4 separate regions of the Homo sapiens genome follow, and regions 1, 2 and 4 are each reported to be linked to region 3. Evidence: microRNA targets listed by miRTarBase, many of them from high-throughput screens and not tested one by one. Region 3 holds a microRNA gene; each other region holds the end of a gene's coding sequence.
What was found. Region 3 holds the annotated microRNA hsa-miR-3714 (GAAGGCAGCAGUGCUCCCCUGU, at 1,754-1,775, shown strand). A microRNA usually pairs through its seed, bases 2 to 8, with sites in the 3' UTR of a target mRNA and lowers its output. Matches are read on the target gene's strand: a 7mer-m8 pairs with bases 2 to 8, a 7mer-A1 pairs with bases 2 to 7 and ends in A, and an 8mer does both.

Region 1: the mRNA of HEPHL1 is a reported target of hsa-miR-3714. Seed matches in the 3' UTR shown: 8mer at 2,972-2,979, 7mer-A1 at 2,654-2,660 and 7mer-m8 at 2,283-2,289.
Region 2: miRTarBase lists CCDC137 as a target of hsa-miR-3714. Seed matches in the 3' UTR shown: 7mer-m8 at 1,654-1,660.
Region 4: miRTarBase lists ZNF496 as a target of hsa-miR-3714. Seed matches in the 3' UTR shown: 7mer-m8 at 3,672-3,678 and 7mer-m8 at 3,260-3,266.

The regions. Positions count from the first base shown.
Region 1 is chr11:94,111,131-94,116,270 of GRCh38, reverse strand. It overlaps HEPHL1 (hephaestin like 1), which reads right to left. Exons shown (of 20, transcript NM_001098672.2): 19 at 4,666-4,734; 20 at 2,063-4,579. The coding sequence ends at 4,377. Among named protein-coding and RNA genes, the nearest start is that of PANX1, 15 kb to the left of the region's middle.
Region 2 is chr17:81,672,194-81,677,333 of GRCh38, forward strand. CCDC137 (coiled-coil domain containing 137) reads left to right here. Exons shown (of 6, transcript NM_199287.3): 6 at 302-1,706. The coding sequence ends at 511. Among named protein-coding and RNA genes, the nearest start is that of CCDC137, 8.0 kb to the left of the region's middle.
Region 3 is chr3:16,931,443-16,936,766 of GRCh38, forward strand. It overlaps MIR3714 (microRNA 3714), which reads left to right and starts at 1,754; the gene lies at 1,754-1,818. The region is part of intron 1 of PLCL2 (phospholipase C like 2); the gene reads left to right.
Region 4 is chr1:247,295,663-247,300,802 of GRCh38, forward strand. It overlaps ZNF496 (zinc finger protein 496), which reads right to left. Exons shown (of 10, transcript NM_032752.3): 10 at 1,753-5,140. The coding sequence ends at 4,857. Among named protein-coding and RNA genes, the nearest start is that of ZNF496, 34 kb to the right of the region's middle. RefSeq lists enhancers at 3,261-4,160, 4,161-5,059.

The sequences.
Region 1 (5,140 bases), not on the chromosome of region 3:
ATAAGTGCTGCAAAGGAAAACAGTGAAGATAGTAAATAACAGAGGGAAGGACCCACTTTAGAGAGGGAAGTCAGGGGAACCCACATGTGAACTAGAAAAGCTAGGAGAATATGATATTGAATACTGAGTGTCAACTTGATTGGATTGAGGGCTACAAAGTATTAATCCTGGGTGTGTCTGTGTGGGTGTTGCCAAAAGAGATTAACATTTGAGTCAGTGGGCTGGGGAAGGCAGATCCACCCGTAATCCATTGGTCACAATTTAATCAGCTGCCAGTGAATATAAAGCAGGCAGAAAAATGTGAGAGGGAGAGATGGGCTTAGCCTCTCAGCGTACATCTTTCTCCCATGCTGGATGCTCCCTGCCCTCGAACATCAGATTCCAAGTTCTCCAGATTTGGGACTTGGACTGGCTCTCCTTTCTCCTCAGCTTGCAGATAGCCTATTGTGGGACCCTGTGATCATGTAAGTTAATACTTAATGAACTTATATATATATATAAAATGAGTTTTTATATCATTATATACATATAAAATGAGTTTATATATCATTATATATTATATATATATATATAAAATGATCTATTCTACACATGACTGGCAGATTAATCATCTTAAAGCACAAGACCGGTATTATTATCCTCTTACATATATATATATATATATATATATATATATATATATATATATATATATATATGTTCTGTCCCTCTAAGAGAACCCCGACTAATACAGAGAGGGAATGAGGAAGCTAGGGAGGGAGAGCATTCCAGGCATAGAAAGCAGCATGTGCAAAGGCCCTGAGGCAAGAAAGAACTAGCAGAGTATAGGAGCGGATGAAAGCTGGAGCAGAGTTCAAGAAGTTGGAGGAGTGGGCATGGGCCAAGTCAAGCTGGGTCTTAAAGACCAAGGTAAAGAGTTTGGATGTTATTAAAAGTGAAATGGGAAGACAGTAAAGGGTAGTAACCAGGAAAGTGATGAAATTTGGAAAAACGTGAGGCAATGTGTGGACAGTGGTGGAAAGGAGCAGTAGTGATGATGGAGAGGCTGGTTTGGGGACTGCTGCAGTGGCCCTACTCAAGCAGGATTTGTGTGAATCTGCAGCCCAAGGTCAGGGTTAGAGAAATACATTTTGAATTTGTTTGCATAAAAATGGTTTTCCGATCATAAGGATGGATAAAATAAACTATGGAGTGGCTGGTAACACATTACCACAAACTTGTTGGCACACATTTCTTCTCTTACAGTTCTGGACCTCTGAAGTCCAAAATCAGTTTCAAGATATCTGCAAGGCCAACCTCTCTCTGGAGGCTCTAGAGGAAAATCCTTTCCCTTACCTTTCCCAGCTTCTGGAGATGCATTCCTTGCATTCCCTGGCCCATGGCCCTTTCCTCCATCTCCAAAGCCAGCAGCATGGCATCTTGTCTTGGTTGTCATATTGCCTTCTTCTGTAGCCAAATCTCCCACTGCCTCTCTTTCATAAGGACACTCATGATTACATATAGGGCCATTATGGATAATCCAGTATAAATTTCCTATCTTCAAGATCCTTAATCATACCTGCAAAGTCCCTTTTGCCACATAGGGTGACATTCACAGGTTCAGGGATTAGGACATGACATCTTTGGGGCAATATTCAGCCTACCACAGAGGGTAAAAAGCGAAAAAGGACCCAGTGTCAAGTTCTGAGGCATGCTAACATTTAGGTCAGACAGAAGAGAAGGAACTAGAAAAAGAGATTGAGAAGGAATAGTCATTGAGGAAGAAGGAAGGCTGGCAGAGAGTCATGTTGCAGAGCCAAGGGACTAGAGACTCCGAGTGTTCAGAAGGAAGGAGCTGTTTCTTGTTGCTGAGAGGTTGAGTAAGATAAAGATGGAGAAGAAGCCACTGGAAATGGCATCATGATTGGTGATCTCTACCACAGCAGATTGGGGTGTGGGGGCTGGGCACGCTGGATTGAAAGCCATCAGAATGGGCTGAGGAATGCATGGGGTGAGGTAGTACAGGCACCAAGTGTGAATACCTCTATGTTCTGCTATCAAAGGAAGAGAGAAACTGTGTCGGAGGGGGTTATAGAGTTAAATAAGACAGCACATTGCTTTCTGTTTTTAATGGCGGACATTGCTGATGGTTTCATAGAAAGATGCAGGAGGAAAAATGGATACCCAAGGGAATGAAGTCTTGAGAAAGCAAGAAGCAATGAGACCCAAAGTCAAATGAAGAGACTGTCCTGCTAGGAGCAGGGACACGTGTATTGTAATAGGAAGAAATATGTGTGTAAGTGAAGGCAGAGTTGATTTTCTCAAGAGTGAGGCTGAGAACAAGGAGTGTAGTTATGTTTGAGGAAACAATGTTTGAGAAGTCATATTATTTGTGGAGATACACTATTTTGTTTCATTTCCTCTAACAAGTGTCATTGGCATAGTCATAGCCCCTAAATATCTAAAAATTAATTCCACTTTAACCACCTCCCCTAGTTCAGTGATAGATAATTTTAAGTGAAAATAACCATGCAAATAGCCACCTTATGTGACACTTTATTAAAATGATAAATGATGCAATCAAACTACTTTGTGGTTTTGTTTTCATTAAAAAAATAAACTGAAAAGAAAAAAAAACAACTGAACAACTTGTCTTACTAAGGTGGGTAATAAATAAGGCATTTACCATAATTATGAAATTATGCAGCCTACACATGTATGAAAACTGTAGAACATGTACTATGAAATCACATTGTCAATGGTTAGCAGATTGAAATTCAAAATCTTTTGTGTATGCTGTTTGATATGACATTCAAGCAAACTATGAACAGAACTATTAGCATTTGCATCCCCTTTTATGTTAAGACTATAGCTTCTATCCAATTACCCATTTCCCCTCATGAAGATGAAGATGAGACAGTGTGAAAGGTCCCTCCACCAGAATATTTCTTAGGTCCTTGTCACTCACTTTGACATTCAAATTACCCACTGCTAAGGCAGGCATACCAGTATCACTCATCTAGCATTGGCATTGGAATCTCAGGGCATCTCGCCCAGAGCTAAAAGCAATTTCTCAGTCTTGTAATAAACAATGTTACTTTTATCAATCTTACACCTACTGTCTAAGCATAGGTATGGACAGTGTAGATTGCCTCATAATGGGTTGAGTTTAGTTGTTCAATAATTTTTTTGCATTTGAACCTTGGAAATTATTTATTAATTTTCAAAGCTGGTTTAATGGTTTAAGAGAATCTGCCACCAAGATTATCTTTTTCTCACCTTTCCTTTTCCTTTTTTCTCCTTCCATGAAGAGGTATGTCTTTAAAAGCCATAGAATCTAGGATATTTAGAGGTCCCTTCTCCTATCTAGTCACCTACATTGATAAATTCCTCCTGATGTTTCTCATACAATGAGAATGTTATAATTTCATAGAAGATGAGGACTTGTAAAGATTCCCTCTAACTGAATGAAAAATCAGACTCCAAATTCAAGCCCAGACTTGCCTCCTGCAAAGCTTCCCTCCCTGATAGAAAGCTTGCTCTAAACTCTCAGGGAGTCCCTGATTCATAAAGGGAGAGCCTAACATGTTCTTTTACAGATTTCAGCCCTCCCACAGTCTGCAGTAGAAATACAATTTCTCTACTTGATTTTTGAAAGTACAAACATTGCCACAGAAACATATTGTAAAAACATGTAACATGAAGTGAGTTGTAAACATTCAAGTATTTCTACAGGTTTGAATAAAAACAGCAGCAATTTTTTAAAAAACGTATAACTTTGCTTTTTAAAACAAGCACTGCACAGGCTATTTATATCAAAGAGGAAAAGGCCAGGAGAGCTGGTTAAAGCCTCCAAAAAATTTATTTGGTCTAATTCTATCAGCAGACACTGACTTAGACATTGCCAAGAACTCCTAAGAAAGATATTTTCCACAGAACCAAGGGATGCATGTTATGCAACAATGTTGAAAAAGTAGTGCCCTTCCAGTTAAATGTCTGAGGCACTCTAACTTTTTCTAGAAGCTGTTCACCTAGAAACTTTGGTGGTTAGCTAAGAAAGCACTGTTCAAGAATTATAAAAGATGGAATATAAAGATATCTTTCAGAGTGTCTCCTATTCAGTGAATCCAACCAAAGAATAGACTAAGAGTTGACATTCTCAGCCATGCCCATTCTCCTTTTTCTGTGTTTTATACCTGAGGATTATTCGCAGCCCATTTAAAAATAAATAAATAAAAGCAAATTGCTTTGGATGATGTTTGAGAGGATCAGAAGGCTGATCCAGGATACAGTGTCAACCTTCCTTGGTGAGTGATGCCTTGGTCCAGTTTCCCTGTTGGCTGCCATCTGGCCAGCTGTGGGACATCACCCTTTCCTGTTGAGGGAGACCAGATGGTTCACAGAGCATCCGTGGGGAGAGCACAGGACTGGACTTGCTGGTAATCTGTCTGCTTCATTGCAGAGCAGAGTCTGAGGGAGAGAATCACCGTGGTGATTAGAAGGAGGAGTCCAATGATGAAAAGGATGACCAAGGCTGCCTTGGCTCCTGTTGGACCCAGATTCTTGCCAAAGAAATAGAGCTGCTCTTTGCCAGGTCGTTCTGTGAAAAAGATAAACTTGTCAGGCCCCTGACATTTTTGAGGGGTGAAATGTTGACTCATTTACATGGGGAGAGGGTATCATTACCGTTAGATGGCACCGTGGCTGGGTGAGATGCCACTCCAGGAGATGTGGTGGAGTAAGGAATCCTGTTGTCTGCACAAAGAAAACAAGTTCATTGTTTTATTAACAACAGAAGGGGATTCTTTTCATGACACTAGTCATTTCATTTCACCAGCGAGGACTTATCCCATCAGTATCTGCCAATCATTTCTGGATTCTTACTGTGCTACTTCATTCCCATGTACATGCTTTCCTGCCCCAGCTGTCTTTCCCACTTCTGCTCACCCACTGAGTCTATCTGGAGCATCATGGCCTCTGTGAAACTTTGGCTCATATCCTCCAACTGTTACCCATTCACTCCTACTGCTGCTATTAAGCCCTGTACTCTGCATTCTGCTACGGCACATAGCATACTTGATTATAGTTACATATTTACATATATGTCTCTCTTACTTGACTCTGAGCTTGTTGAGGGCTATATCTGGGTTTTTGTCATGCC
Region 2 (5,140 bases), not on the chromosome of region 3:
GTGCTGCCAGGGAACAGAAGCCTTGGACAGGCTGGACACGGTGGGTCACACCTGTAATCCCAGCACATTGGGAGGCCAAGGCAGGCGGATTGCTTGAGCCCAGGAGTTGATACCAGCCTGGACAACATAGCGAGATCCTGTGTCAAGAAAAAAAAAAACCCTCAGCCAACGTGTGCGCTGTCTGGTGTGTGGCCTGAGAGTGCAGTGTTCTCGCTGGCGGGAGAGCTGTTGAAGCTGTGAGGCTTTCTGTTGCATCCCCTCCTTTCCCAGCCTGTGCCTCACCCTCCCCTCTCTCCCTCAGCCTGGCAGGAGATCGCAGATGCTGCGGATGCTTCTGAGCCCCGGTGGTGTGTCCCAGCCTCTGACCGCCTCCCTGGCCCGCCAGCGGATTGTGGAGGAGGAGAGAGAGCGGGCCGTGCAGGCCTACAGAGCGTTGAAGCAGCGGCAGCAGCAGCTGCACGGGGAGCGACCCCACCTCACTTCCCGGAAGAAGCCAGAGCCGCAGCTGTGATGGAGAGACACCCGGGGCCTGGCCACGCTCTGGGGCAACTGGCACCAGGAGCTGCTACACCTGGGTAGGAGAGAGGCAGGCCATGCCAGCAGTGTGGGGTGAGGCCTCCAGCTACTTGTTCACACGTTGGGCACTAGTGGGTCCACATCTTGCAGGGGGTGAGTGCCCGATGGACTAGGGCCAAGGCCTGGTTGACAGACGGCCCGTGGGGCCCGGTGTCACTCACAGCTCCATCTCTTTGTTTTGAACGTCCATTCTGAGTCTCAGCCCAGGTGGACCTTAGGAAGGGCTGGATCCCTGTCCCTGAACACCAAATACCGAGACAGCTGATGAGGCTGGCTCAGTGTGTGACGGAGGCCCCCGGGAGTCAGCAGAGCCGAGCGTACAGTGCACATCAGGCAGAGCAGGCCACGGGCAGGGACGACGCATCGGGACAGGGCTCTGCAGGGGACCGTGACTACAGGCCAGCTGTGAGTGGTCCCCTACAGAGGCTGCCCACCCAAGGTTTGGTTGGGGTGAAACATGATGACAACACATACACTTAAGAAGGTGGGAACCGGGGGCCGGGCGCGGTGGCTCACACCTGTAATGCCAGCACTTTGGGCAGCTGAGGCGAGTGGATCACCTGAGGTCAGGAGTTCGAACCAGCCTGGCCAACATGGTGAAACTGCATCTCTACTAAAAATACACGAAGAAAAAAAAAACAGTGGGAACAGAGTTGTCACCTACCTAACAGGGCTCTGAGAGAGCCGGGAGGCCCAAAGTGGCTGGAAGAAGGTAAAGGAAAAATCCTGTCTTGGGCTCAAGGTCACAGAGTGGGGCCCAGGGGGAGTTCCTGCTGAGGGCAGGGCCTTGCCAGGCTTCAGTCTCCAGTGCCAAAGGAGGAAATGCCCAGGCTGTCAGCATTTCCAGATGAGAGCAGAAGGGAGAAGCTTAAACCCAAGTCACACATCCAGCAATGGAGTCCGACAGCCCAGCACCATCTGGGAACTGAGAAGCACCTCTGCCCGGCCCCCACACCGTGTGGAAAGTGAGGAGCACCTCTGCCTGGCCGCCACCCCGTCTGGCAAGTGAGGAGCGCCTCTGCCCGGCCGCTGTGCAACCTTCCAAGTGTGAAGTGACAGCCTTGTGTGTGATGTTTTCTGCCTTCCCCAAGTTTGCACTTTCGACATTAAAGTTTACTTTTTAGTTAAAAGTTTTAAATTGGAGAATATATATTTAAAGTCAGGGCTGTTTTCCTCTTATGGGCATGTTTCCCACCTTGTGATGGACCTGGCGGCCCCAGCCCTCGCGTTGGGATGTTGTTTTTGCAGCAGCCAGAACTCAGCCCCAGATCACAAGCAGCAGCTGGAAGGGGGTGGCCTTTCCCTGGGAAAGGGCTGGGACGGCAGCGGGTGGCACTCCCACTCGCTCAATGCCTTTGGTTTTGGGTGTCAGATCGGCCCGTGTATGGCTAAGCAAAGGGATCCCACAGGGCTGGGAAAGCGCTCATGCTCTCCACTGCATCCATGATTCTCAGGTTTTAGCTGCTGGAAGGGAAACCCCTGGTGGTTTTTAGGGCCTCTTTGTTGCCCAGGCTGGGGTGCAGTGGCATAAGCACACTGCAGCAAGTTGTTGGGCTCAGGCAATCCTCCCACCTCAGCCTCCCAAGTACTTGGGACAACAGGTGCTCACCAACACACCCAAATAATTTTTTGTGCTTTTTGTATAGATGGGGTTTCGCCACGTTGCGCAGGCTGGTGTCGAACTTATGGACTCAAGGGATCCGCCTGCTTTGGCCTCCCAAAGTGCTGGGGTTACAGGCGTGAGCCACTGTACTTGGCATTTTTTTTTTTTTTCTGAGGCAGGGTCTTGCTGTCACCTTGGCAGGAGTGCAGTGGCACGCTGGTCTCCAAGTCTTGGGCTCAAGATTAGCCTGCCTTGGCTTCCCTCAGTGCTGGGGTTCCAGGAGAGACCAGCTCACCCCTCCTACTTTTTTTTTTTTTGAGATGGAGTTTTGCTTTCGTTGCCCAGGCTGGAGTGCAATGGCACAATCTTGGCTCACCACAACCTCTGCCTCCCAGGTTCAAGCGATTCTCCTGTCTCAGCCTCCCAAGTAGCTGGGATTACAGGCATGCACTACCATGCCTGGCTAATTTGGTATTTTTTAGTAGACACGGGGTTTCTCCATGTTGGTCAGGCTGGTCTCAAACTCTTGACCTCAGGTGAGCCGCCCGCCTCTGCCTCCCAAAGTGCCGTCCTGCTTTTCTTACTTATCCTTTACTTCTGGAATCTTCAGGAGGAGGTGATGTGGGCATGTCAGGGTCAATGTTTAAGAGGCGAAGGCCATGGATGGACCTCCCTGGGCCTTCCGCTCTCCATGGGGCAGTGCTGTTCTCTCCATATAAAGGGAAAACTGAATTTGCACAAAATCGGGGTGCTGACAAAACCAGTGATCCCAGATGGGTCACCTACTTGTACACACAGGTCTCGCAGCACCCTAGTTGTCAACTTTCCTACAAAGAATTTTCCCAGACTAGCCAGATTTTCTCCCAGCCAACCTATCACACATTTATTGATGTGATTTTTTTTGAAGAAAAAAATTAATGTTATAATTTCACATACCGTATAATGCTATCCTTTGATTAGCGTTTAGTTTGATGGGAACTCCAAACTGTTAAAGAAAATTCAGGCCAGCTGTGGTGGCACCATGCCTGTGGTCCCAGCTACTCGGGACGCTGAAATGGGAGGTTCACTCAAACCTGAGAGGTCAAGGCCGCCCCACCGTCTGGGAAGTGAGGAGTACCTCTGCCTGGCCGCTGCACCGTCTGGGCCTGTGAGCTGTGATTGTGCCTCTGCACTCCAGCCTGGGCTGTAACAGAGCAAGACCCCCATCTCTAAAACAGAAAAGAAAAAAAATTCCTATCCAGGTGCTACATCTGCGCTGAGAAGAGTCCACGAGCAGAGACGACTCTGAGAACAGTGGTGTCCTCAGCAGCATCAATTTCCCCAGACTCAGGAGAGAATTGGGCTCTGGCATGTGCACTGAGGGGGGTCCAGCATGCCTGGCCCCATGTGGGCGGCAAGCCACCCGGGTGCCAAGGCAAGAGACTGAGGACACGAGCTGTTCCAGTATAATAAAATATAAGAATAGTTATACCAGACATAGATCTTAGATATGATTATATATGAATCATGAATCATTAGTTTATAGCAATTACTCTTTATTCCAATATTATAATAATCCTCGCTCTATAATCATAACCTAGGAAAAGCTAGGCCATACAGAGATAGGAGCTGAGGGGACATAGTGAGTGAGGTGTGACCAGAAGACAAGAGTGCGAGCCTTCTGTTATGCCCAGACAGGGCCACCAGAGGGCTCCTTGGTCTAGCGGTAACGCCAGCATCTGGGAAGACGCCTGTTGACAAGCGGACCGTGGTCTAGCGGTAGCGTTAGTGTCAAGGAAAAACACCCGCTACTTAGCGGACCGGGAAAGAGTCTCCCTTTCCCCAGGGGAGTTTAGAGAAGACTCTACTCCTCCACCTCCTGTGGAGGGCCTGACATCAGTCAGGCTCGCCCGCAGTTATCCGGAGGCCTAACCGTCTCCCTGTGATGCTGTGCTTCAGTGGTCACGCTCCTAGTCCGCCTTCACGTTCCATCCTGTACACCTGGCTCTGCCGTTTAGTTAGCAGTAGCAAATTAGTGAAAGTACTAAAAGTCTCTGATAAGCAGAAATAATAATGTAAGCTGTTTCTCTCCTTCTCCTCTCTCTCTCTCTGCCTTGGCTGCCAGGCAGGGAAGGGCCCCCTGTCCAGTGGACACGTGACCCACGTGACCTTACCTATCATTGGAGACGGCTCACATTCCTTACACTGCCCCTTTGTCTTGTATCCAATAATATCAGTGCAGCCTGGCATTCGGGGCCGCTACCGGTCTCCACAACTTGGTGGTAGTGGTCCCCCAGGCCCAGCTGTCTTTCATCTCTGTCTTGTGTCTCTATTTCTACACTCTCTCATCTCTGCACATGGGGAGAGACCCACCGACCCTGTGGGGCTGGTCCCTACACCCCAGAACAGCCGCTGAGTGCAGGGACCCTAAGGTTGGGTGGGGGTCTGGGTGACAAGGCCAGGGGAGTCCCCAGCACCCCTCACCCACCCTGCAGGACACCCCAATTGACACTGTGTGCCAGCGAAGTGGGGACCTGATGGTTTTGAGAACGTGGGTTATTGAAAGTGGCCTGCAGCACACGGCCTGTCAGGAGCAGGCAAGGAGGGTCCTTATCCACCCACCCCGAGACCGTCCTCCCGTGGCACCATGCCACGCCTGCATAGGGCTCCCTGGCTGGAACCCACCCTTGAAAACCGCCTGAGGAGGTGCCAGAGTGTGGCTGCCAGCTCCAGACCACGTCGGCTCCACCTGCCTGGAACCCAGCTGCCACCAGCGCTGGCTGGGAACACAGGCTTGCTGTTTTCTCCGGGTATTGGGAAACGCGTACTCTTAGGACTCATTCAGGATCAGCATGTCCAGCCCAAGGATTGCTTCAGGAAAGGCACTCCCTCCCAACTAAAGGAACGTTCCGCCAAGCAAGCTGACAAGCGCGGCCCACCCACCTCCAGCCGGGTGGCCACAGGCACCTCAGGCTCCTACCT
Region 3 (5,324 bases):
AGCACGTAAATGTTCTGTTCCTATAAAAACAATTTAAATAGAGACTTTCTTTATCAGCAGACAGAATAACCTGGTTGCATTGTCAATGTTCTGTCTAAATGAAGTTTAACTAACAACTGTTGCCTTTAAGGGATAGAAAAGAAAACCTCACAAATATTATTTATAGAGAACATGCATTGGTCTTAGAGTCTGAGGGTCCAGGTTCCAGTTCGGTTGCTGCCATTTATTACGTGAATGACCCCAGGCAAGTCTCTTTTTTTAAGGTTCAGTTTTCTCCCTTGCAATGAGAATAACACCTCCCTGACAAGGTTATTTTAAGAACTTGATGAGATGTTGGATATGAAAGCATCTTGTATAGGTAAGACACTAAGTTCTGACATAGAATAAACTTATGATTGCATGTTTGTATCCCTGCAAAATTCATACATTGAGATACAATCCCCAGTGTGATGATTTGAGATAATTAGGTCATGAAGGAGGAGCCCTCATGAATGGGATTAGTGCCCTTATAAGAAGAGGCCAGAGAGCTAGCTCACTGTCTTTCTGCCATGTGAAGATATAAGGAAAAGGTGGCCATCTGCAGCCTGGAGAGGGCCCTCACCAGAACCCGACCACACTGGCACCCTGATCTCACACTTCCAGCCTTCAGAACTGTGAGAAACAAATTTATGTTGTTTTAAGCTACCAGTCTATGGTAATTCGTTATGGCTGCCAGAATTAGGATAGCTCTTAATTTTTAGTTGAATCTGAATTTATATGTATTTCTTAGGCCTGGATTTGAAAACCATTCTGCTATGTGGTTTAGGTAGTATCAGCTGTTAGCATACGCATTGTCTCAAGGACTAACTTTTCAATATCTATCTTTATTTCAGGTTAGTAACATCCTTTGTTTGGGAATAACATGCATATTATTTCATCTGATGTTTTCCTAAGACAATTAGATTGAATTTTTTTCTTCTCACTTAAGCATTTTGGAGTACCATTAGTCCTCTTCCATGTCTTAGATAATATTGAATTCAGGGTGTACTTTTAAAAATCTTGGTAGTTAAATTTAGCAGTTTTGTTTGGAGGTATTTATTTTCATCTTGGTAATAAGACAAGAAGTAAGATGTTTCATAATTACCATATTTTGTTTGGGATTTCTGCTGAATTTTCTCTCTCTCCATTGCAGTTCTCTTTTTGGAGAGGTCCTTCTCTCTACAGCCATATGCTGGTAGATAATGCACGGTAGCTGATCAGTGCTAGAAAATACAGGAGATCCAGAGCATATTACTCCCTTGAACGTATCTTTTAGCTGCAGGGAAAACAGATCTAAGGCATGAATTACAACTTATTAGTTGTAGATGGACTCTGTAGCCCAGTACTGATTAAGAAGAAACAGCCTCACTCTGTCTTGCCATGATGGCTGTTCCAAGTCAAAGGAAAAGGAGAAGTCTGTTGGAGAAGATTTTCTTTCTTTTTTCCTTCTTCTTCTTTTCTTTAGTTCATCCATTCATTTATTTTCTAATATTATGGGACACAAAAGCAGAATTTGTAGTTAGTACTCTTGGCTGTAGAAATTCGTAGTTTTGCTTTTCCTTTAAGGTTGATTCCAGCACCACTTTGTGAGAAGAAACTGTCATAGTTTCACATTGCCTCTAAGAAAATGAAACGTACCTAAGTATTATTGGACAGCCGGAGTATTTTACAGTGGTTGCTGCTCAGGAAATTTGAGTGAAGGACTGCAAAAGAGGAGCAAAGCAGACCCGAGAGAGAAGGCAGCAGTGCTCCCCTGTGACGTGCTCCATCACCGGGCAGGGAAGACACCGCTGCCACCTCTCCACAGCCTTGTTCAAGAGCACTGGAAATTGTAAGGTGTTTGTTTTGTTTCATTTTGGGAGTGGTGGAAGATTAGCCTTTGTGTTTCTCCTCTAAAGAGTTTTGTCTAAAACGCTTACGACTACTTAGTTAAACAAAAATCCAAAGTAAGCTATCATTGAAATATGAAATATACTAACAAAGCCAAACAGTAAAAGATTATACAGGGAAAGTCCTTTCTCCCCATTTTGACTTCACCCACTCAGTTTCCCTTCCCAGTGTCCTTCCAGAGAGATATTTGACTCATGAATCAGCACATATATTCATATGCCTGCTTTTTCATACACTGTAGCAGCATACTAGAATATTGTTCAGCATTTTTATTTCTTTTTTTTTTAACCTTACACTATTTCCTGATGTTTTCCAAGTAAATGTTTTATTTTTTTTCTTATGGTTGTGTAGTATACATCCATTGTGTAGATGGATGTGTAAAGTACACATCCATTGTATAGATGTGTAATTTATTTAGCCAGTTTCTTGAGGAATATTTAGGTGTGGTGGCTCATGTCTGTAATCCCAGCTCTCTTGGAGGCTGAGGGGGGCAGATCACCTGAGGTCAGGAGTTCGAGACCAGCTTGGCCAACATGGTGAAACCTGTCTCTACTAAAAATACAGAAATTAGCCGGGCATGATGGTGGGTGCCTGTAATCCCAGCTACTCAGGAGGCGGAGGCAGGAGAATCGCTTGAACCCAGGAGGCGGAGGTTGCAGTGAGCCCAGATTGCACCACTGCACTCCAGCCTGAACGACAGAGTGAGACTGTCTCAAAAACAAACGAACAAAAAAGTCTTGGTGTATGAATAAGGAAAGGAGCCCTAGATATTGGGCATGCAAAGGCTTTTGTGTTCTCTGAAAAGGTCATGCAATGATAGAAGTGACCCGAGACACCTGTAAACTGATGACCCACAGTTAAATCCACATAATGTGGCCAGTGCTGTGGTTTTGGGTAAGTGCAGGATGCTGTGGACAGTGGGTGCCTAAGAGCTACATTTCACTCAAGTGCTGGAGAAGCAGGAGAGATTGACCCTAAGGAAGTTCCTGCTAAGCTGAGCCCTGGAGAATGTGAGGAACATAGGTTAGGAAAGGGTAGAATAGTGTGAGGAACTGTGTTCTAGGAGAGGGAACACCAGCATGCCCAGAGATCATCATGGCCCGTTTGAGCTTCAGAAGTGTATCTGTTGGCAGTCTGGAGAGGAGACTGGCAAGGTAATCAGGCATTGGAATCACCGTAGCTCTCCATAAGTGTCAAGGAGGTTGGACATAAGGCTATGGGAGGCCAGTGAAGACCTTTATCAGGAGTGGGAGGTTATTTGATTTGTGTTTAAAAATCTCATCCTGCCTGCCAGGTGGAGAGTAAACCGGAAAGGGATGGGATGCTATGTAGGAAGCTGTTGCAGTAATCCAAGTGAAAGGTGATGGTGGCCTGAACTAGGAAATGGCAGTGCAACTAGGAAGAAGTAGACACAGAAGAGCTCTTCAGACAGTGGAATCAACAGGAGTTAGCAATTTTGAGACGTGGGCATGGAGGCAGAGACCCTCAGCCCTCTGGTTGTTCACTTTTAACAAAAAGATTATGTGCAATGCATTTAACATATTATTCTTGCATCTTTATGAAACCATCCTCATTATTTCTTTTGGACAAATCCTGGAAGTAGACTTGCTGAGTCAAAGGAAAGATCTTGAAATATTTCAATAATGTAGTCAAATTGCCTCCAGAAAGGCTAATACGCCAATTGTCCATTACCAATTAGGGCACTAGCTTCAGCCTCACTGAGTATTATCGCTTTGAATTGACACCAATCTGATAGGAAGAAAATACATACCTTTTCTTTATTTTAATTTGCATTTCTGTGAGTACTGGCAAAGTTGAAGTTTTTTTCATGCTTATCAACTAATTATATTTCCACAAATTACATATTCATATCTTTGCTTATTTTCCCCCTGAGGTGTTTATCTTTGTCTTTTTTATTTCTAAGAGCTCTATTACTCTTTAGTTGCTTAACCCTTTGTCTTTTCTATTTGTTGCAGGATTTCTCTCATTTATTTATGCTTTTGTTTATATTTTGTTGATCAGAAAGTTTTTTAATGTAATAAAATATTTTGTTCATGCTTTATGCCTGTAGTTCAGTGTGAAGAAAATTCTTCCTCAACCCCAGGTTGAGGTATAAATAGTGGGATTTTTATAAATATTCACATTTATTTTCATTTTTTACCTTCGGGTCTTTAATTCATCCGGAATTTTCGGATATGTGTTGTAGGAATCTATCTCTTTTTGATCGGAATAATAATTTTTTTTTCTGAACCAAAAATCGGGACAACCTAGTCTATGTAACAAATAATTTTTATGCATTTGTGTGGCAGAAGCAGTTTTAGAGAGTAATAATATTGGAATTTCTGGGACATTTGATGTTATATATGTTGATAGATTATAGAGAGATAAGATTTAAGGACTAATACTTATACCTGGGCAACATCAGGGAACCTGTGCCATTGCTAAAAAATAAAAAAAGAAAGAATGGCTCCCAACACCCATTCAGAATAGAATGTTTGAAATCCAGAGTGCATGAGAAAGTTCAGGATCCAGATTGTAAAATATTGCCAATGGTTTATGTAGTGCAACCTGCATTTCACTGATAGCTCATGTTATCCTTCCTATTTGAAACACTAGTTAACATCAAAATGACTTTTCAGGTCCGTGGTGGCTCTAATCTTTGTATGTTGGTAGGTTCCTTTCTAGGCAGAACATCCAAAGACAACCCATTCTCTTGAGGCCATCAGAACAAGATCAAAGGTTGTAGAGCCTTGACCACAGTATTAAAGCAAAGCCTCAAAATGACTTAAGGAATCTTAGGAAATAAAATGCCACAGTCCTGGACATTTATCATTTGGCAGCAAGCTAAACATTTCCTAAAACTTTTACAAGTAATTTAGGTACCTAATGGAAATTTTTTGTTTTTAAATTCTGGAGTTGCCTAAATTGTTTAGGAGAAATTTAGCTGGAATCTGGCGATAGGACTGTTTATATGTGCTTGGCTCAGGGTGGCTGTGTTGTCCACATTAGCATGACCATGGGCTCCTTATCGAAGCCCTGGTTCCCAGTAAGTGCTGTTTGCAAGAGTGAGGTGGAGTTTGGTGGCTTTCAGGCCACCCAGAGTGCCATGTGTATCTGTTTGATAAACTCTGTGGTTTGTCTGTTCTCTGTGTTTTTGCCAGATTGTTTAAAAAAAAAAGAAAGAAAGAAAAAGCAAACAAGCAGGCATCATATGTTAAAAGTTTATCTTTCTACATGAATTTTTGGAAAATCTAAGTGTAATTTTATTCCTGAAAGAACAAAAAGTTGTTTCCCTGGGGAGATAATTTTGGGGTGCATAGATATTTTTAAGGCTGTAGATATTAACTATGAAAATAATATATAACTTTGTCAATACTTTTTTTTCAGCAGGCTAAGCCATATTTTTTCAAAAAAAC
Region 4 (5,140 bases), not on the chromosome of region 3:
GTGAGTAGAATAAACTTCGTCTTTTCCTGAGACTCTCCTCTGTCTTCTCTTGTGGCTATGCCTGACTGATCATCACGTAAAAAGGTAGAAAATAGCAAGTATCCAACCTCTTCGTATTTTGACAAGGTGTAGCAAGACTAATATAATGGGGCAGGACAGACACAACCATAGTATTTTTTTTTTTAAAGCAGGTGATGGAGAAAGGGTGGTTCTCCTGCCATTTGGTTGTGTGATTAGAAGACAGCCCTTTGTCACACAGTTGTCGGCCTGCCTGTGATATTCCCGGCTATGGCCAAGATGTGTGAGGTAAGCCCCGGGTTCCTCCCACTTCCGTGTATTCCTGAGGACTCTGCTTTCCCACACTGAGTTTTGCATCTTCTCACAGGGAATTTCTATGGCTTCTCTGTACTTTGCTAATTATATGCACATTAATCATGGTGACCTGGTTACAGGCTATGGTTTCAAGAGAAGATAAAGTTCCCAATTGGTATCTGATGGGCAAAACAGGTACAGATGGACCCCCTGGGCTTTGCCCCTGTTGAGCTCATGATCACTACTAACCACCCCCCAGATGCTGGGCCACTGGCACTCTATCAGCTGCCCTATACATGGGTCTGGGCTGCTAGAGGTACCTGGTCTTCCAGTGGTCCCTTCAACAGTCCCTTTCCTGTGGCCAGTCTGCCCTAAGCAAGTTTTCTAACCTCTAGCCTTGTTGCATGGACTAGTAGTGGGCACTGACCGTCACTTTCAAGACCAAACAGTATCAGTGTTTGTTGCTAATACTAAGTGTGTCTGGAGGCTGGGTGTGGTGGCTCAGACTTATAATCCCAGCACTTTGGGAGGCCATGGTGGGAGAAGCTCAGGAGTCTGAGACCAGCATGGGCAAAATAGTGAGAGCCCGTCTTTAGGGGGGTGAAAAAAAAGTGGGCTTATTTGATGGAATTGCTGAAGTGCTATAATCATCGCTGAATCGTCTACGTAACTCTGCAAGCAGAATTACTTCTATCTGATCCAAACTCTGCTTTTGGCAGAGGAAGGGAAACCATCTCACAGGAGAAGAGTGACTTGGACAAGATCTCCACAGGCTTCAAAGCTGGCCTTCTCTTTCCTTTGTGCCACAGTATGATTTAGGACTGATAGGGACCCTCCCACCAATGGCCTCATCTTTTTTTATTTGTTTCTTCTTCTAGCTGAGGCAAGAGTTGGGGAGATAGAGAAAAGAGAAAAACGACTAAGGTTGGCTTAAAGCTGTGGTGTGACCAGGAGTACAATCTACTCCCAGCGTATGAAACAGTTATTTCTTCTTCTTTCTTTTGGGGAGGGGCCAGATCAGGTGACCAGAACTATCTAAAGCCTGCAGGTCTTAGAAAACATGTTTTGGCTGTGCTTCACATTTTACTTTTTGTTTTTTGAGATGAAGTCTTGCTCTGTCACCCAGGCTGGAGTGCAGTGGCGCTCCACCGTTCATAGCAACCTCCACCGTTCACAGCAACCTCTGTCTCCTGGGTTCAAGGGATCTTCCCCCACCTCAGCCCCCAAAATAGCTACAGGCATGTGCCACCATGGCAGGCTAATTGTTCTATTTTTTTCTTAGAGATGGGGTCTCACTATATTGCTCAGGCTGGTCTCAAACTCCTGACCTCAAGCAATCCTTCTGCCTCGGCCTCCCAAAGTGCTGGGATTACAGGAATGAGCTGCCACGCCCAGCCACATTTTACTTTTTAAATGAAAATGAAAAGCCTAACAGGAATATTGACTCAGCAAGTTTTTATTATGCACCTGTGGGTTTGTGACGATGCCAAGGGATCAGAGGAACAAAGAGAGAGGATGTTGCTCAGATGGGGGTCTCAACCTCCAGAGCAAGGTGGACACAAAGCTCCAGCCAGCTGCCCAGCCCCTGGGGTGGGAGGGAAGGATCGAGGGGTAGCTGTTGTCAGATAAGGCCAAAGGTATCAGTGGCCAAAAGGGAGACAAAGATCTCCTGGGTGCAGCCTCCTCCACCACTGTGGTGAAGGGTGTTGGGCTGGAGGGTTGGCCGACCTCTCCTGAGAGCACGTTCCCCCTGCTGCTCCTGCTGCATGGCATCAACCTGGGTTTCAGTTACATTACCCAGGAGGATTTCCAAATCCAGAGGCAATGTGGCCTTCCATTTCCTGAGGTGCCTTGGTTGGCTCTGGATCAGTGGTGGGGACTCAAGAGACAGCCTCCCTGTGGCTTCCAGCCCCTCACATTCCCTTTGTCGCTTTCTCCTTCATGATGTGGTTTTACACAGAAAAACACTCTGGTAAGTAGAACAGTGTTCTTCTCTTGAGTCAGACGTCTGAAGCAGGAAGGTGAATAACCTTCCCAAGACCTTAGAGCTACAGAGAGAATCCTCAGCACAGGTAGGAGCACACAGGTAGGTGGGGTAAACGTGTACAGAGAGCCTGGCTTCTACTTGGAATTTTCCCCTCCCTTGGCCTTAAAAATCGGATTTCTCCCTTTTCCAGCTATGTTGATACAAGAGACAAACTATTTAGAAAGTAAAAGCCTCAACCGTTTATTTTGTGTTCAAAGTATAACCAAATGATTTTATTGCATTTACTGCTCCTGGGCATGCAGATGCATCTACACAGAAACAGCAGTTGTGGTTATAAAATCTTTTAACGAGTTTGGGGCAGAGGCTTTTTAATTATTTTTGAGACAGAGTCTCATTCTGTCACCTAGCTTGTGCAGTGGCATGATCTCGGCTTACTGCAACTTCTGCCTCCCAGACTCAAGCAATCCTCCCACCTCAGCCTCCAGAGTAGCTGGGACCGCAAACGTCAACACCACACCCAGCTAATTTTTTGCATTTTTGGTACAGACGGGGTTTTGCCATGTGGCCCAGGCTGGTGTCACTGAGCTAGGCAATCCACCCACCTTGGTTTCCCAAAGTGCTAGGATTACAGGTGTGAGCCACTGCACCCAGCCCAGAGTTTTCCTGATGTGAAAATTACGTGAGTGACAAGGAGCACCAGGAGCCTTGCCTGACTTACTGTCTGTTGGTAGGATGTGACATATGAATAATACAAAATACCCGTCTGGTTTGACTTGCAGATTAAATCACTGCTAGACTACAGCCTTGATGCCCTCTCTTGCTGACCCTAGCCAACATAACCAGTCTTCCAGGAACAATACCATGTTTTAAATTGCTTGAGGTTTCACTACCTGCTGTCACTCTCAGTCCGGAATCCCAGCAGGAGACACAGCTCCAGCTGGCCTGCCCAGCCCCCATCAGAAGGCAGGGAGGAAGGGGAATTTGTCAGCGTTTACGGCTATTGAGTATGATTCTTCCATGCAGAGGACACCTGCCCTAAATGCTGAAACTTGGGTCTGAACCCTGCCTTTGATGGAATTGTGAGCAAGCTCACTCAAGTTTGTATTGACTCATCTGTAAATTAGGAATGATATAGCATACCTCACGTTTATCTGGAGTCATGGGCTGAATGCTGTCCCTTTCAAATTCCGATGTTGAAGTCCCAACCTCTAGTACCTCAGAATGTGACCTTATTGGTAAACGGTTGCTGCGGATACAGATGAGGTTATACTGGAGTCGGTGGGATGGGCTCTAATCCGATATGACTGGTGTCCTTAAACAAAGGGAGGTTTGGAGACAGACACGCACACAGCAAGAGTGCCATGTGGAGATGAAGGCAGAGACTGGGTGACGCTTCCACACACCAAGGAATGGCAACTGCCAGCAAAGGCATGAAGCCGCTTCTCCCTCACAGCTCTCGGAAGGCACCAACTCTGAGGACACCCTGATCTTGGACGTGCACCTCCCAGAACTGTCAGGGAATACACTCCTGTTGTTCTAAGCCAGCCAGTGTTTGGACACACCAGCACTCCAAGCTAATGTATCTATCAAGTGTGTTGTCAGGCAAGGTTCTGTTCTGGAGCTTGGCTCACCCAGACAGGAGAACCCCTCACTGGGGGCAGAGCTCCACATTCCTAGACAGGACAGATTGGAAGAAGGGACTTAAGTGCCTTTTAAACGATGACAACTCCGCTTCCAACCCACAAGCATTTACCAAGGATCTTTGGGGTATAAAGACATTATGGGGTAGGTGTGCAACACAAATTAAAATGTAAGCTTTGTTTTTGGTGAGCTCCAGATCCCTAGTGATTGGCCCCCAGGAAAATCAACAGGTATGACGACTGTTTCCAAACCTCAAGAAGGAGCTCTGCAGACCCCTGCCACAGAGGCCAGCCCAAAAGGGCTGCCTGATCATCTTGGATCTGCGGGGTGCTCCTGCCTACCTGATGGCCACGAATCTGGGGCTCAGACATGACATGTCTGGCTCAGTGTGCCTGGCCCTGCTCCCCACTGAGCCCATCAGTCCCACCCTGCCTTCTTCTTTCCTCTAGTCCAACATCCGCCAGCAGCTTCTCAGTGGAAGTGCAGGCATCCTGGAGCTTCAGGAGCAGATCCTAGCGTTCAGACAGGGAAGGAGGGGAGGGAGTATACTGAGGTTTGGCTGGTGACCAGGGTGCCGCCCTGACGGGGGATAGCCCAGTTTTACTCCCCGAGCTTGGGGAGCATGGGCCAAGGGTCTCTAAGACGCAGAACACCTGGCATGTCCAACCTGGTGATGGCACATCCCCCCCGTTTTTTGGCACAGCAGAAACAGAACACTCACTTGGCCACTCTTTCATTACCTGGGGGAGGGAGAGTGCTCCCATGGCACCACCCGAACGCTCACTACCTGAGAGCAAGGACAGGAGGGAGGTGTGCTCTCTATCCTGGGGAAGGTATGTCCTGGGTGGGGGCGCTGATCAGTACCAAGGTGAGGGGGCAGCACCAGCCAGGGTGAGGCCGCCCCAGGCGGAGAGGCTCAGTAGGAGTTCAGAGCCTGCTTGGAACGGCGCTTCATGTGCAGGCGCTCGTGGCGGAGGAGGTCATAGTTCTGCGTGAAGCTCTTGACGCAGTACCGGCACTGGAAGGGCCGGGCTTTGTCCTTCAGGTGAAAGTGGCTGCGGTGCCGAGCCAGGTGGTCGTGCCGCTGGAAGGCCTTCCCACACTCACAGCACTGGAAGCTCAGTTTGGCCTTGCCGTTTTCCAGCGGCTCTTTGGGACCCTTGTCCGCGTCCTCGGATGCCGCCTGCTCTCTCTTCTCCA